Homo sapiens: one gene and its partner. The protein of the gene in region 1 binds, or shares a complex with, the protein of each later gene. Each region holds a gene or a part of one and is shown on either strand. Other genes may lie near its edges.

The links. Proteins that work in one complex are often made in the same cells at the same time.
Region 2: the proteins of CFTR (region 1) and YWHAB are in contact, whole or in part, in a crystal structure (PDB 6HEP), measured with the Homo sapiens proteins. Residues at the interface, in NP_000483.3 of Homo sapiens: Arg764, Arg765, Arg766, Gln767, Ser768, Val769, Leu770, Asn771, Leu772, Met773; in NP_003395.1 of Homo sapiens: Arg43, Asn44, Ser47, Val48, Lys51, Arg58, Arg62, Phe119, Lys122, Arg129, Tyr130, Glu133, His166, Pro167, Ile168, Gly171, Leu174, Asn175, Val178, Glu182, Ile219, Leu222, Asp225, Asn226, Leu229, Trp230.

Annotation. Positions count from the first base shown.
Region 1 is NC_000007.14:117,475,493-117,483,041, reverse strand, and holds the start of CFTR (cystic fibrosis transmembrane conductance regulator), read right to left. Parts: upstream 3,018-7,549; 5' UTR 2,948-3,017; coding exon 2,895-2,947; intron 1-2,894. UniProt on the Homo sapiens protein: Epithelial ion channel that plays an important role in the regulation of epithelial ion and water transport and fluid homeostasis. Mediates the transport of chloride ions across the cell membrane.
Region 2 is NC_000020.11:44,888,698-44,895,727, reverse strand, and holds part of YWHAB (14-3-3 protein beta/alpha), read right to left. Parts: intron 1-7,030. UniProt on the Homo sapiens protein: Adapter protein implicated in the regulation of a large spectrum of both general and specialized signaling pathways. Binds to a large number of partners, usually by recognition of a phosphoserine or phosphothreonine motif.

The DNA of each region.
Region 1 (7,549 bases):
TTTCCACCTTAGATCCTAACAATATTTTACTCTTTGGTCTTACTTGAGACTAACTGCAGAGTTTACAGGAGACCCCACATCCCTTGTAAGAAATCAGTGGCACTGTATACTTGGATTCTGTGGGGTTCCCACAGTTCCTCAGTATAGACCTAGACATAGCACAGATATCACGACGAAAATTCAAGTTATGTCATGTGACACACGGTTTGATATACACTCTTACAACTAAACGAAATATGAAAAATTCAGGGCATGAGAGAAGAGACAGAGAGGAACAAACTGAATAACTACCTTAAAAGTTGTGAGAAAATGTAAATTTAAAAAATTTTCCCAAATTAAATAGCACAATCTCTGTTGGTGACCATTTATAAATCAATCCCACTTGTATATGAATTATAAATTATATGCTAATATATCACTTCTAGTTTAAAAATAGCTTCCTATTTCATAAATGTTATTTTCATAAAAGTTTCAATTTAATGTACTTGTTTGCTCTGATAGTCATGAACTACCTGAATTTTTCATGGTGAAATTCTCTCTTAGATTATGTTTATTTTATATATATATATGGATTATGATAGTTCAGATGTTCTTCAAATTTTATACTTGATGTGAAATCCACACAAAATTAAGAAAGTAAGAAATAACTTAGATTTTTTTTCCAAACTTTTTGGTTTTCCAATGACAAAACCTAGACATATAAAGAGATATTCAATACAATCTATAACTCATACCATAATAATTTTACTCTTTTATGACTCTCAAACTGAAGGGATCCTATTCAGAAAGTTAAATTCTAAGGCATTTAACAACATACAATAGAAACATGTGACGTGTTTCCTGTATATCTGGTAAGGCCATGTGAAACACAATTTTTCATAAATTAAATTCTCATACAGGCCCACTCATTGCATATCCAGATTGAGAGTCACAAAATTATACTCAAAGATGAATTGAGCATCTTATATTAACAAGGTGCATGTACTGTGATGAATGTGAAAATATGGTAATCCATAATAATAGCAGTTAACATTAGGCTAACTTTTCACATTCATTTTCTCAAGGGATTAACCCCTATGACAGTCTCCAAATTTTAAAGGTCAAGTCACACACAGAGATGTTAAGGGACCTGCCTCAGGCAACAGAGCTACTAAACAGTAGATGTAGGATCTGAATCAAAATAATCTGACTCCAAAGCCTACCACTTTGAAAACTAAGCAATACTGCCTAACTTAATGCAGAAAATATGTTTTTTACACTTTTAGAATTGCAGTCCAGAAGGCCAGAAGGAAGTTTGTAATCATTGGTATTTTAGGTGATTGTCAGTTCCTATAAATAGTAGGAACTTAACTTTTAAAAACATACCTATTCTTAAAGCACCTTATGAAATATTTTGGAGAACAGAAATGAGTATGCTCTTAACACACTTAGCAGCCTTTGTAATACATTTTCTTTGCAAACCAGCCTGATAGCATTTTTTAACCTATATTAAATGTGTCAGGTGATTTGTAAAAAGAAAATTATATAAAAACCCACTTTGACAGATCAATAGTAAGCTATTTTAAAGTTCATTAGTATTTAGAACTATCCATGAAATATTCATTCTTCTGAAAACTGCATTTTTAGACTGGTTGGCATTTAGGTTCCTCAAAGTTCTCTGCTAAAAAAAGTCTATAATTTATGCCAATTAACATTTTGACTTTATAAGGACTAGGAAAACAGATCAATAGATAAGCCGATTTTATAGGTGGAGTAACAAAAGGTGGATAACATCAACACAAAAAGATAATTCCAAAGAGTAAAGTCCTTCTCTCTCATCCACAGGGAGGAGCTCTCCTTCAAGGGCCAACAGTCTCTCCTTAGCACCGGAGTTCCAGGATTAACTGCACATGCAGAGAACTAAACATAAGAGAGATGTGAAAGCTAAATTCCTTCCCCCCTACACACATATATGAGCTATTTATAACATATTTGACTTTTTTGATACCTCAGTATGCTTATTCATTGGGTAATTATGTGTCAAGTAATGTCCCAAGAGAGAGCAGTACCTATTCATTCATTCACACCAGTATAATAACAGGAACAAAGTAGATGCAATATCCAAAGAACACTTCAAATATGAAGTGCTACATCTAACAACACTTTGCCTAAGATTCCGAACTTAGATGCTATTTTAAAAAATCTCATTAAAGTTTGCAAGCTTCTGTGGCTCATCACATTAGGCTATGAATACAATTTATTAAATGTCAGTTGGATATAACTTCGGTATCTATTCCTATGGCTTTTAAAATTTATAGCTTGTGAAGTAACTTTTTTCAAAATAAATATTTCAACAAATTTGCTTTCAATTTTTGAAGAATCATTTACCTGTGACAAATACTAGATATATCCAGTCTCATAACAATAAATACTTTAAGCATATATTTTCTACCTACCCCAAAATTTTTGTTGGCTGAATTCAGTCAAGAAATGTTTTCTGAGCACTTACTATATGCAGGCATGGCACCTGTATGTGCCAAGAAGACAATCAAGTGTCCAAGGCATGAAGGGGGAAAACCAATAAACCATACTTAGGTACTTATTAACAAGTATTTTTAGTTTCTTAGAAAAATGAAATAAAACAAGTGCATAGTAGCGTACTTGAGTCTTGAGATTCTAACTTTTCAGTTGCAAGTAGATGTGGCTCTCTATTCAATCAGCTTCAGTTCATTCTTCCATCTCTTCTTAATGCTTTCTGTTTTATTCTACAATACCCACATTTTCTTTCAAAACAATGAATGATAGCGCATCTTTTTAAAAACTGCTTATTCCTTTACCCCAAACCCAACCCATACACACGCCCTCCTCTTTCGTGGGCACGTGTCTTTCCGAAGCTCGGTTGGCCACCTTCTCACCTGAAAAAAAGTTTGGAGACAACGCTGGCCTTTTCCAGAGGCGACCTCTGCATGGTCTCTCGGGCGCTGGGGTCCCTGCTAGGGCCGTCTGGGCTCAAGCTCCTAATGCCAAAGACCTACTACTCTGGGTGCCTGCCGCTCAACCCTTTTTCTCTGACCTGCTGTGATGTCATTTGCTTCCAATTCCCCCCACCCACCCCTACTCCGCACACCACCCCTTCCTTTTGCTCTTTCCCCCGCCTTCACTGCCCAGGTTAAAAGCCGAGTGCTGCCTGGTCCGGCCCCAAATTTGCTCTAGCGGCTTTCTCCACCCACTACGCACCCCCGCCAGCACCCCTCCCGCTCCTTCCTCCTCTCCTCCTTCGCTCCCTCGCCGCCCCGCACCTCCCTTTCCCGATTCTGACTCCCAGCCTCCCTCCCTCGCGCGCGCTCCTTCCAGGTCCGTGTCCTTACCGCCCAGCACCAGGCCCATCCCGCAGGTGGGCGACAGTCGCGGCCTCTCTTTAGGTCCAGTTGGCAACGCTGGAGGACAGAAGAAGCCACCGGCGGGAGAACCGGCTCCCCGGAGAGCTTCCTAGACCCTCCTTCGCGTCAGGGTCCGCCAGACCCAGGACCCGCTGCCACCAGCTTCCCCGGAGCCTGCCTTCCTCCTCCTCCTCCTTTTCCCGATGATCCTAGTCGGGTTCCTGTTACGTTTGCAAGGTGCATTTTGAAAAGGGAAGGAAAATGTGCCTTTCGTATATCAAAATACAGCCTTAGAGAGCCGAAAAGTTCCGCGGCAGTGTGGGTCTGATGCATTTACCTTAGCGCTTCCTTTGCGTGTCGGAGAAAAGAACCAAGCTTTATTAGTTTCAGGTTTAGGTGAGTGAACTCCAAGGGTGGCACAGAAATCTTAGGACACGTACTGAAAGAGAAAAAAAAATCTGCAAGGAGGTAAGAGGAGATAATGCTTTGCGTAATTACCGGCCCAGGATGTGTTCCTTGTCTATCCTTTTTAGCCCAGTGCGCATTTTTAAGGAAGGCTTTGGAGTGTTTTAGCGATAATGACAAGGAACAATGTAAACTAACCCGCCCTCCTATAGATTTCCTAGTCTCAGTCAGCAAAACATCTTGACTAATCCACCGAAAGGAAGCCAAGCAGTCTTTGAAGCGAAGGTAATGTGTTAACTTTGACCTGACTCAGAGAAACGCCATCTTCAACTCTCTGAGGGGCATCTGGGCATTCCCAGGCGTAGGCGCCTTCCTTCTGAGAATTTTGTGTAGGATTGCCTGTGTCTCTGACGGTTTTTAAAGAGCCAACCCTCTAATCCCTGAACCCTACTGTGTAAAAGCAAGCATACATTGTGTTTGAATTGAAAAATTCAAAGGAAAGTAAAAATTTTGGCCTGATTACTTTATTGCCGACACATCTAAGGCAAGGGTCTTGTGAATTATCTTGTTGTTGACTTGTGGTCACCCAAATACAGTACAAATAAAATGTGCATTTCATGATGGAAAGACAAGAACCTGTGTTGAAAATAAAGAATGTGTTCAGCAGGTTTTCATAGCTCTGCTTTGCCCTTCCGTGGGCAAAAGCATACCTTTTTTTCTTGATATTGTAAAGTAAGATTTAGAAACATTTAATCTTTATTATCCTAAATTTGAATAGTAGAGAAAAGAGCAAAGAGATAAACCACATTGCATTAAGTTAGACACCAGGAAAGAATTTCAGCATTTTTAACTCACCATCCACTCTGTTGTTTGAAATCCTCTACCTGTGTTTTCATCTCTCCATTATGACAAAAAATTGTGAGACTCTGTCTTCACTATTGACTTTTCCCAGACATGTGATTGAACTCACCACATCCACTTCCCCATTCCCAATCTGTTGTTTGGTTTATAACTGTTAGTGTGGCCCATCAAATATAATACATGCATTTTGAAATAAATTAATAATTAGTTCTTCTTTGTTATCAACAAGCAAGTGAAAATAAAGGGATTAAGAATTAAGCTCCAAAGAGGATCATAGAAGCTGACCAAGGAATATGGCTGGAGGAGACTCCAAATATTTTTCAGCCAATCTCCTTCTGGAAAGAGTGAAACAGTTACTTGAGTTCTTACTATTTGCCAGACATTATTCATATAACCCTTATAACAACCATGTAAATAGGTGTTATTATCTTCAGTTTTCAGTTAAGCAAACAAGAAAAGTTAAGTAAATGCCTATAATGATAGAGCTAAGATTCAAACCTGAGTCTAGTTCTAAACCATTACTCCTATCACTGTGTAATACTGCTTCTAATCAAATCATCCCTCATGTATTTATATAATGTCACTTATATATCAACATAGTCTTTTTCCTCACATTAGTTTCATGAAATAATAACTTCTAGACCTGTTTAACAATGAAACAGGAAAGCAGAAATCTACAAACCAAGTAGCCAAACTAAGTAGCCACTGGAGTTACATACTTTTAATGAATTACATTTAACTATAACATTGCATTTTAAGCATGTACACACACATGTACATAGGAAGACCACAGATTTTTATCATAAAACATTACAGCCCAAATTTGTTTTGGTAGAAATAAAACTTTACCATTATTCAGAGCTTTAACACAGTTAGCAAGCATGTCCAGATGCACTAATTGCGACATGATATTCAGGATTTGCATCTAGGTACATACATAATGTGGGAATGAGGACTTATCCACCAGAAAATTGTTCAAATGTGGCTTAAGGTCATGATTGAAATCCTAAACGTATCTCTGAAATGTCAGGAACAGGAAAGAGATTAATGGGCCAGGGTGATAGTAGGTGAAACAGTGAAGCTCTTCTTTCATGCTGCTCAATGATAGCTCATATCATTTTATAACAATTTTATAATACCTTATGGTTGTTGGTCACTTACCATATATGCCAATTATTATGACAAATACACAGCCTAATTTGCCTTTTTTAATCTTTACAACACCTTCATGGGACAGGAAACTTCTTCATTCACTATATATTACAGATAATGAACCTGAGGAAAAACAAGTTTCATGTTTTCCCAAGCAAGTTGCACAATTAATAATAAAAGAGGAAACTGGGATTTAAACCTAAACAATCTGTGGCCAGAGCCCAAGCATTTAATGACTGACTACACATACTTCACATACTTCCCCTATAGAATTTCCTAATGCAAGAACTGACCTTAAATATAGAAGATTGGGTGGCCATTTCTGTGGCATCATTTTAAAGGTATATTAAAAAGAAGAGCGAGGATGAGTAGGAGAAAAGGAAGCCAACATTTATTTAATACCTACTTTGTGTTCAGCAATGTGCTGGGTGCTTCTTACAAATGATCTCAATATATGAAAGATTATAAGTGATAACCTTCTCGTCAAAGATTAGTCACCCTGCCAGGTTTCACCATTAGAAATCATGAGAGTGAACTTTCACAATACTTTACTTATCCATCATGTTCAACTTAATTTGAGAGTGTTTCTCAGATTCTCTCCTGAGTAGACTTTAATAGTGATAAGTGGGTAGCAATCACAAGTACACTAAAACCTGAAAATGTGGAAGAAGAAAAGAAATAGTCACTCCTATCGGGAAGAAAAGCTCGTTAAAAAAAGACAAGGTCTCTTCAGCTTCATATATGTAGTCTGGTTGTGCTTATAAGTTTATCTAAGCTAGAAGGGTAAGAACAGCCACAGCTCTTCAACAGTGGGCCACAGTGATTACCTAGGATGTAAACACACATTACAGTCTTACAAAGATGTTTCAGGACTTGAAAGAGGTGTCCTGGGACATGACTAGGCCAGATTCTAGTTTACTTTTACTGCTTCCAAAATAATGTTTGGTCTGACAATTCTGTTTATAAACACACACGCACACCAACTTCTATTTACATACATTCATAACCCCTCTTCCCTACAACCTCCTTGGAGGCACGAATTGCATCTTATGTTTTCCTTTGAATTCACCCCTTATTTTGTAATACAGTATATACACTCAAACAACCGTTTTCTCTTGGGGTTACTGACCTAATAATTGAATGTCATTCTAAAGGGGATATTTGAAGATGCTCAAAAGATGAATGTTTACTATTAATTTTTCACCAAGCAAGAGCTTGGGTGCTAAAGCAGATGTACAGAATAAGGCAGTATCTCCATCCTTCAAAATTTAGAATCCACTGATGGACATCAACATTCTCTGAACATGACAGAGTATAGTGGAAATAGCTTGTGCTAAAGCAATAAAGAACTAGGTTTTCAATCCTGGCACCACACTTAGCTCTGTGACCTTAAGTAAGCTACTTAACTTTTCTGTCTTTTGTTTCCTTGCCTGAAAATGAGGTTAAATACACTCACCTTGGTCAGGTGCCATGGCTCATGCCTGTAATCCCAGAACTTTGAGAAGCTGAGGCAGGAGGATTGCTTGAGCTCAGGAGTTTGAGATCAGCCTGGGCAACACAGTAAGACCTTGTCTCTACAAAAAAATAAAAAAAATAGCCAGGTGTGGTGGTGCATGCTTCTGATCTCAGCTACTTGGGAGGCTGAGGCAGGTGGATGGCTTGAGCCTGGGAGATCGAGGCTGCAGTGAGCTGTGATCATGCCACTGCACTCCAGTTTAGGTGACAGAGTAAGACCTTATCTCAAAAAAAAAAAAAAAATCACCTCATAGGAT
Region 2 (7,030 bases), on another chromosome or scaffold:
TGGAGGCCAAAGCTGGAGCATCGCTTGAGACCAGGAGTTCAAGACCAGCCTGGGCAACATAGTAAGACCTTGTCTCTACAAAAAATAAAATATTAGCCAGGTGTGGTGGCTCATGCCTGTGGTCCCAGCTACTTGGGAGGCTGAGATGGGAGAATCGCTTGAGGCTAGGAGGCCAGGGATGCACTGAGCCATGACTGCATCACTGCACTCCAGCCTGGGTGACAGACACCCTGTCTCAAAACAAACAAAAAATTACTCTTCCTAAATTACCTCTAGTCTTGCCTTTGTCCTTACTCAGTAACTTCCAATGACTCCCTTTTGGCTACTCCATCAAATTTAAGCTCTACCTGGCTTTCAAATTCCTGATAAATTGTCTCCTCTTTACTTGTTTGGCTTTCTCATCCACTGTTCTCCAACATGTACCTTTCTCTCAGGCTGGCCAGCACCACATGCCCTATAAACACAATGCTCAAACGTGTCTGAAACTGCTTTTGTAGTTCCCTTCATCTAGAGTGCTCTCCTATTTACTGCCTGCCTATCTGAACTCCACCCATTCTTCTAGGGCTACAAACCCTTCCCTGACTGCCCTAGCCCTCACTGATTTACCTTGCCTATGACTCTGAATATACTTATAGCCTATTACATGGTCTAGGACTTCTTTATGCCATTCTGTGATACAGATGAGTACTGTACCACTTACAGCTTCACGTGTGTGCCCTCAAAGGAAAGCTTCATGTTTGTTTCACATTTAATGCTTATAACTGTGCTAAGCACAAAACTCATATGCAAATGAATATCAAGTTTTTCTACAAATCATTATTGGGAGAGCACAAGGAACACAGAGTACCTATATGTAGTATAGTCGGAAGGCAGCAGGACTGTGTGTCACAGCGCAATGTGCCACTATACAGCCATGTGAGCATGTTAAATCTCAGCCTTCCAATCCATAAAATGAAGATGGCATCTACCTCAGTAGAGTTGCTGTGAAGATGAGGCGCAGGGAATTAAAGAATACTAAATGTGGAAATCTTCCTTGAAAAATGCATAGTGCAAAATCAAACTGAAGTACTATTATTCTTCTCCACGACTATTACACTGTAGCAGCCCATAAAACCATAAGCTTGAATTTTCTTTTTAAATATACAATTTTGTGAGAAGGAAAAGCAAAAGTCTAGATTAATCTTGTACAGATAGTTAGTATGTTATGTTAAAATGGACATATATGTTAAATGTAACTGAAGTTTATCCATTAGTTTCTAATTGAATTTTCTAGTGATATGCCATGATGGTTTTTAATCAAGACCTACTGTTGTTCCAAGACTTTGAATGAGGTTCCCACTAAAAAAAAAGTCAGCAAGATACTCTTTATTTGTCTCCTAAAAAGTTTTTGAAAGACTATAGTCTCATCGTCAGGCCTGGCACCACTGCAGAAGCATCAAGATACTGGCGCAGGCAAACTCATTAGAGGCCACAAAAGGCCCAACCCTGCAGTAAGCCAAGAGATTTTCCTTGTGCTGGGCATATTTCAGGAAGAGACTGACGTGCTTGAGAACAGGAGCTCTCCAGCACACCTATATGATGATGATGGCTGTCAATCTGTTCTAAGCCACTGGATGCAGCAAGTCAGGACTGGGAAGCATTTGTTGATAAACGCAGAGATTGCTTAGTGAAAAAATGGAAGCAAATCTAAATATCCAACAATATGGGAATGGTTTAAAAAATAAGGAGACTGGCCAGGTGCACTGGCTTACGTGTGTAATCCCAGCACTTTGGGAGGCCAAGGCAGGCAGATCACCTGAAGTCAGGAGTTCGAGACCAGCGTGGCCAATGTGGTGAAACCCCGTTTCTACTAAAAATACAAAAAAATTAGCCGGGGTGGTGTATGACTGTAATCCCAGCTACTCGGGAGGCTGAGGCAGGATAATCACTTGAACCCAGGAGGTGGAGGTTGCAGTGAGCCGAAACTGCGCCACTACACTCCAGCCTGGGCGACAAGAGCGAAACTCCGTCTCAAAAAAAAAAAAAAAAAAAAAGGCAGGGGAGGGAAGGAGATAGATGGTACAAGATTACGTGGCCATCAAAAGAAGAGATTTAATGTCATGAAAAGATTTATTTAAGAGCAATGGGGGCTGGAGGGACGAGGCTGCACAATATTTTATTTCTGTAAAATATCCCCTAAAGAACAAACAAACCCGAACAGAAAGGTTACACCAAATGGTTAACACTGGTTCTGTCTCTGGGTAATAACATTATTATATCCTCATTTTCCTATCTTTTTAAATTTTCTTCAAGTATGTATTACTTTTTTAAAAATTGGGTACTATTTCTTTTTTTAAGAAAAAAAGTGTTTTTCTGTTTAAAGAGAAACCACTAGTGCAGATAAACAGCTATGAAAAATAATTCTAAAGGTACTCACAAAATAGGATTTTCTTCAAAGAAACAAAATCCTAAATCAGATAATAAATGCTGAAAATAGAGGATCTAGGAAACAGCCTAGCCCCTCTATCCCAATTCCTTCCCCAAGGGACATCTTTCTAGTCAGGGTCAAAATACTGAGAAGTTATTTCCCAGTGGCTAGAGCAGATATCCTAGGAGAAGAATCAAAAAAGAAAGAAAGAAAAGAAAAAGAAGACTACCTACTGCTAATCCATTTTTTTTTAAATAAAGGCAGTGCAAAGACAGAAAGGGTTGAAAATGACAGCTGTGGCCTTTAGAAGCACTGGCTTTCAGCTATGTTTTGTTTTCAAGGCAAAGAACATGCTCGATTCGAAAATAATAAGCTTTGAATTTAATAATTTGTTAGAAATTTCAGATGAAGACTCCATTATTATATGTCAGGAATTACCCAAGCTCTATACATATAAAATATACGGTGGGGTCTGCTTTTAGCAAGCCTTACATACACATCTGAGCTTCTAAAGAGAAAGTAGGTGATTTTTCTACATTTCCACATTATAACTTACCTGAATCTGTTTTCTCAGTGTTAAAAAGAGACATTAATAGCTATCAAATAAGATAATGAACATAAAATGCCCATATAGTGCTGGTTAGAGTAAAGGCTCATAAGCCATTCTTATTTTTTATTCTTAAGCTACCTCACAAAAATGTAACACATATAATCCAATGTGTGTTGAAATAACTAACAAAATGAAAAACTACCAAATTTCTAAGAACTCTTTGGATTATTCATTGAGAGGAATTTAAAAGAAAGCAGTGTAGTCCTCCCCTCAGAGAGCTTAAACTCTAGTGGTAGAAACACAAGAAAAGAGCACATGTATATCTATTACACATCAATTAAAAAAAAAAACAGCACACGTTTAAGGGTTACAATGCCTCTCCTTAGAAAGCCAACCAGACAGAACTAGAGGAAATAGGTTTAAAGGTAGCTAGGTCGTGACTTAAAAAGAGATGTTATTAATAAAGTGCATGTATGTTTTTCTAGATGAGATAAAAATCAAAGGCCAAAGCAGATAAAGAAATGAGAATAAGGAAGAAAACTGACAAGAAAATCTGAAAAATCTAGGCTCGAATGTTTCAATGGGGTAAGGAACTGATCACATATTCTGAACAGCATTCACAGATGTACCATTCCAGATAGAGCATCCACAGCACTGTACAGCAGAAGTTTTAGTTCTGGAGTCTCTCTGCTGAAGAAAAATCAGATGCCAAGCTACTGCAGAAGGGACTGAGAAAGTCAGTGGGACCAGGTGGTTAGTGGGTGTTACCCAGAAAAAGTTAAACACTCCTGGCTCTCAGAGAAAACTACTCACTAAAAAACACCCACTATAAAACTGTCTGTGTGCCATTCTACATATAAAATTTAGAGTCCTGTAATAAATTTAATTCCATTCAAACATTTGCAGGTTCTTTGTTAGGAAACAAAACACAGCATATCTGTAATACAAAGTCATTAGCACTAAGTCCAGTGAACACTGAATTTGGAGAGAAACTGCATTTCTATTATTTCAAAATCCCTTCCCTCTTTCACATCAGCTGTTGCATATCATTGCTAATTATGTCCAATTAGCCATGATTAAACTTACTGAGGGTGTTAAGTGACAGGCGCAAGGTTACACATGTGACTTAATGGTAGATATGACAATAAATTGACTTCTTGGCTTAAGTAATCAATCCAAAAGACACTATGTTAATTCTGATCCATAAAGACAGCCCAATTGGTTGACCTTATGAATAATTTCTACAGTTTGGGGCCCACTGACATAATGAAGCCTATCAGTCTGATTTACCAGTACCGCACACCAAGTCCACAGGCTATGTGACCTCTGTGAATTTGTTTTCTCATCCATAATACAGGCAAATCTGGGCTGGGCGTGGTGGCTCACGCCTGTAATCCCAGCACTCTGGGAGGCCGAGGAGGGTGATCACTTGAGGTCAGGAGTTCAAGACCAGCCTGGCCAACATGGTGAAACCCCGTCTCTACTAAATATATAAAAAAATTAGCCGGGTATAGTGGCAGGCGCCTGTAATCCCAGCTAATTGGGAGGCTGAGGCAGCCTGAAGGCAGAGGCTGCAGTGAGCTGAGATCACGCCACTGCACTCCAGCCTAGGCGACAGAGCAAGACTCTGTGAAGAAAAAAAAAAACATAGGCAAATCTACTTACTAGGGTTCCTGTAAGGAGTAAACCTGTTTATGATATAAAACAGTAAGCACTCAAATAAATGGCAACCACAGTACATTCCACACAAAACTTAAAAAACCAATGGTCAGCCAGTGAAGGGAAACTTACTATGTACCTCATTTATTTTACACGTACTCTGCTTTCTTTAAAGACTTTTAAAAGAAAGGCACATAACAATTTCCCTATGCTTATTTCTAAAATGGCCCTTATCACAGTTTACTGCAATGCAAGTGTCTCTGCTGGCTCCCACACCGGATTGTGAGCTTAAAGTAGGAATCCAGCCAGGCGTGGTGGCTCACGCCTGTAATCCCAGCACTTTGGGAGGCCGAGGCAGGTGGATCGCAAGGTCAGGAGTTCAAGACCAGCCTGGCCAAGATGGCGAAACCCTGTCTCTACTAAAAATACAAAAATTAGCTGGGCGCAGTGGCAGGCGCCTGTAATCCCAGCTACTCAGGAGGCTGAGGCAGGAGAATTGCTTGAACCCGGGCTTCAGAGGTTGCAGTGAGCCAAGATCGTGCCACTGCACTCCAGCCTGGGTGACAGAGTGAGACTCCATCTCACAAAAAAAAAAAAAAAAAAAAAAAAAAGTAGGAATCCAGACTTGTATCTTTGGACACCCAATGTGGAGTACAAGGCCTAGCACACTGAGTGACTGCTTGATCAACTGATGCATTCTTAAAAAGTGAAAAAGCAATTATTTCCTACGTGGACAGAGGAAGGTAGCACACATCTGACCTATAAAATACAGACTGTTTTTATTGTCTTAGACTACTTTTTGAAAAAAGCCAGCCAGCTCTCATCAGGAGCAACACTATACATTTTGACTAATATTTTTCAGCTACCAATCATTGTATTTATAGATTCAAACTGACTTTCAACAAGCCTTTGGATTACTTTCTGTCCATCTCCTCCATTCAGAAGTCCAATCAGTTCGCTATACAAAAAGTTCACTATACAGAAACCCAAACCAGCTAACTCGTTTAGTAAATAACAAAAATATCCATCCATCATTTATGGCCTGCAAAGCACTCAGGGATTCCTAGAAACGCATTTGATCCTAAGTATCCTATGAGGCAGGTGACATTGTCCCGTTTTATAAATGCAAAGAGTTAACTCATTCAGGGTCACACAGCTATATATGGCAGATCTGGGATCTAAACCAACATTAATTTTAAAATTAATGCTCTTTCCTTTATGTAACCCTATCTCCTAAAGATCAATTATGAACTCCAATGCTCACTTAAGGAAAAGAGAGAATTGTCAACTTTTAAAAGAACTATACAAGGTTGTTACAGTGAAATTTTAAAACTGGCCTATTAAGCTAATGTTATCTAGCTTTAAAAATAAAAACAAAATCAAGGAGTTAAAAACAGCATAAAAACATGCCAAAGACTTACCAAAATGTCAAACAAATTTTAAAGGAAAGCTCTTAGCTGAGGGCAAATAATAATAATAGACAGGACTCATATCTACTTTATTGTAGCCTTCAATCTTCTTGTCCTGGTCAAGGCCATTCAGAAATAACCTCCTGTTGGTTCTTTTAGGGAAAACAATAAAATAAACTAACCAGTACGGGAAAAACTTACATAATAAAGAACTGGCCAGAATTTAAAAAAAAAAAAAAAGTTAACTAACCTACAATCTGCTAGGAATGACTTGAGGCCACTGATCATTTACATCTCATTACAAGTATCAGATACATATAACCACACCTCTATTAGAAAATCTTTTAGTTGAGAAAGCAGTAAGATGATTGGCCTTCAGCACACATATCATGAGACAGAAAGCACTTTTAGTCTGTTTCCTCAAGTATTCCCCTTAGAAAAATTCCCTCAGAATCCAGCTCCAACCGTTAGTTTCTCCATCATGCAATACAGATGACTGCTAAGATCATATTCACATAGAGATCAAAAGGATTCTAAAGCTTAAAGGTTGCTATTATGTAACCATAATTTCTTGCCCCTTAACTAGTGAATTGTCATCTTTCCCTAGAAAAATGTAGAAACAAGGAACTTAAAAGTATCTCTACAAGGAAATTTTAGTTCATTCTCTAAGGTACCAGCATTTAAAGGAAAACTCAGTTTGTTGACACCGAAAGAGCAGGTAGCACAACAGGATGTTTTAATTTAGAAGTTTCTCTCTATTTACGTAGATATATTTCCTCATTTCCTCCCTGCCAACAAAATGAGAAAAATCTGAACATCTACTGATGAAGTCGTAAGATAAACAAAAATTAATGGTCACAATCAAATTCTATTAGATGAAGAACCTAAAATTCTATGCCAAAGTAACTGATGACTTTCTCCCTAGTATGAAGCAAGTACTAGAAAAACTGGATTGTTCACAAGCTTGCTTCCTGATGCATGCTAGCAATTATCATCCCTACAGGC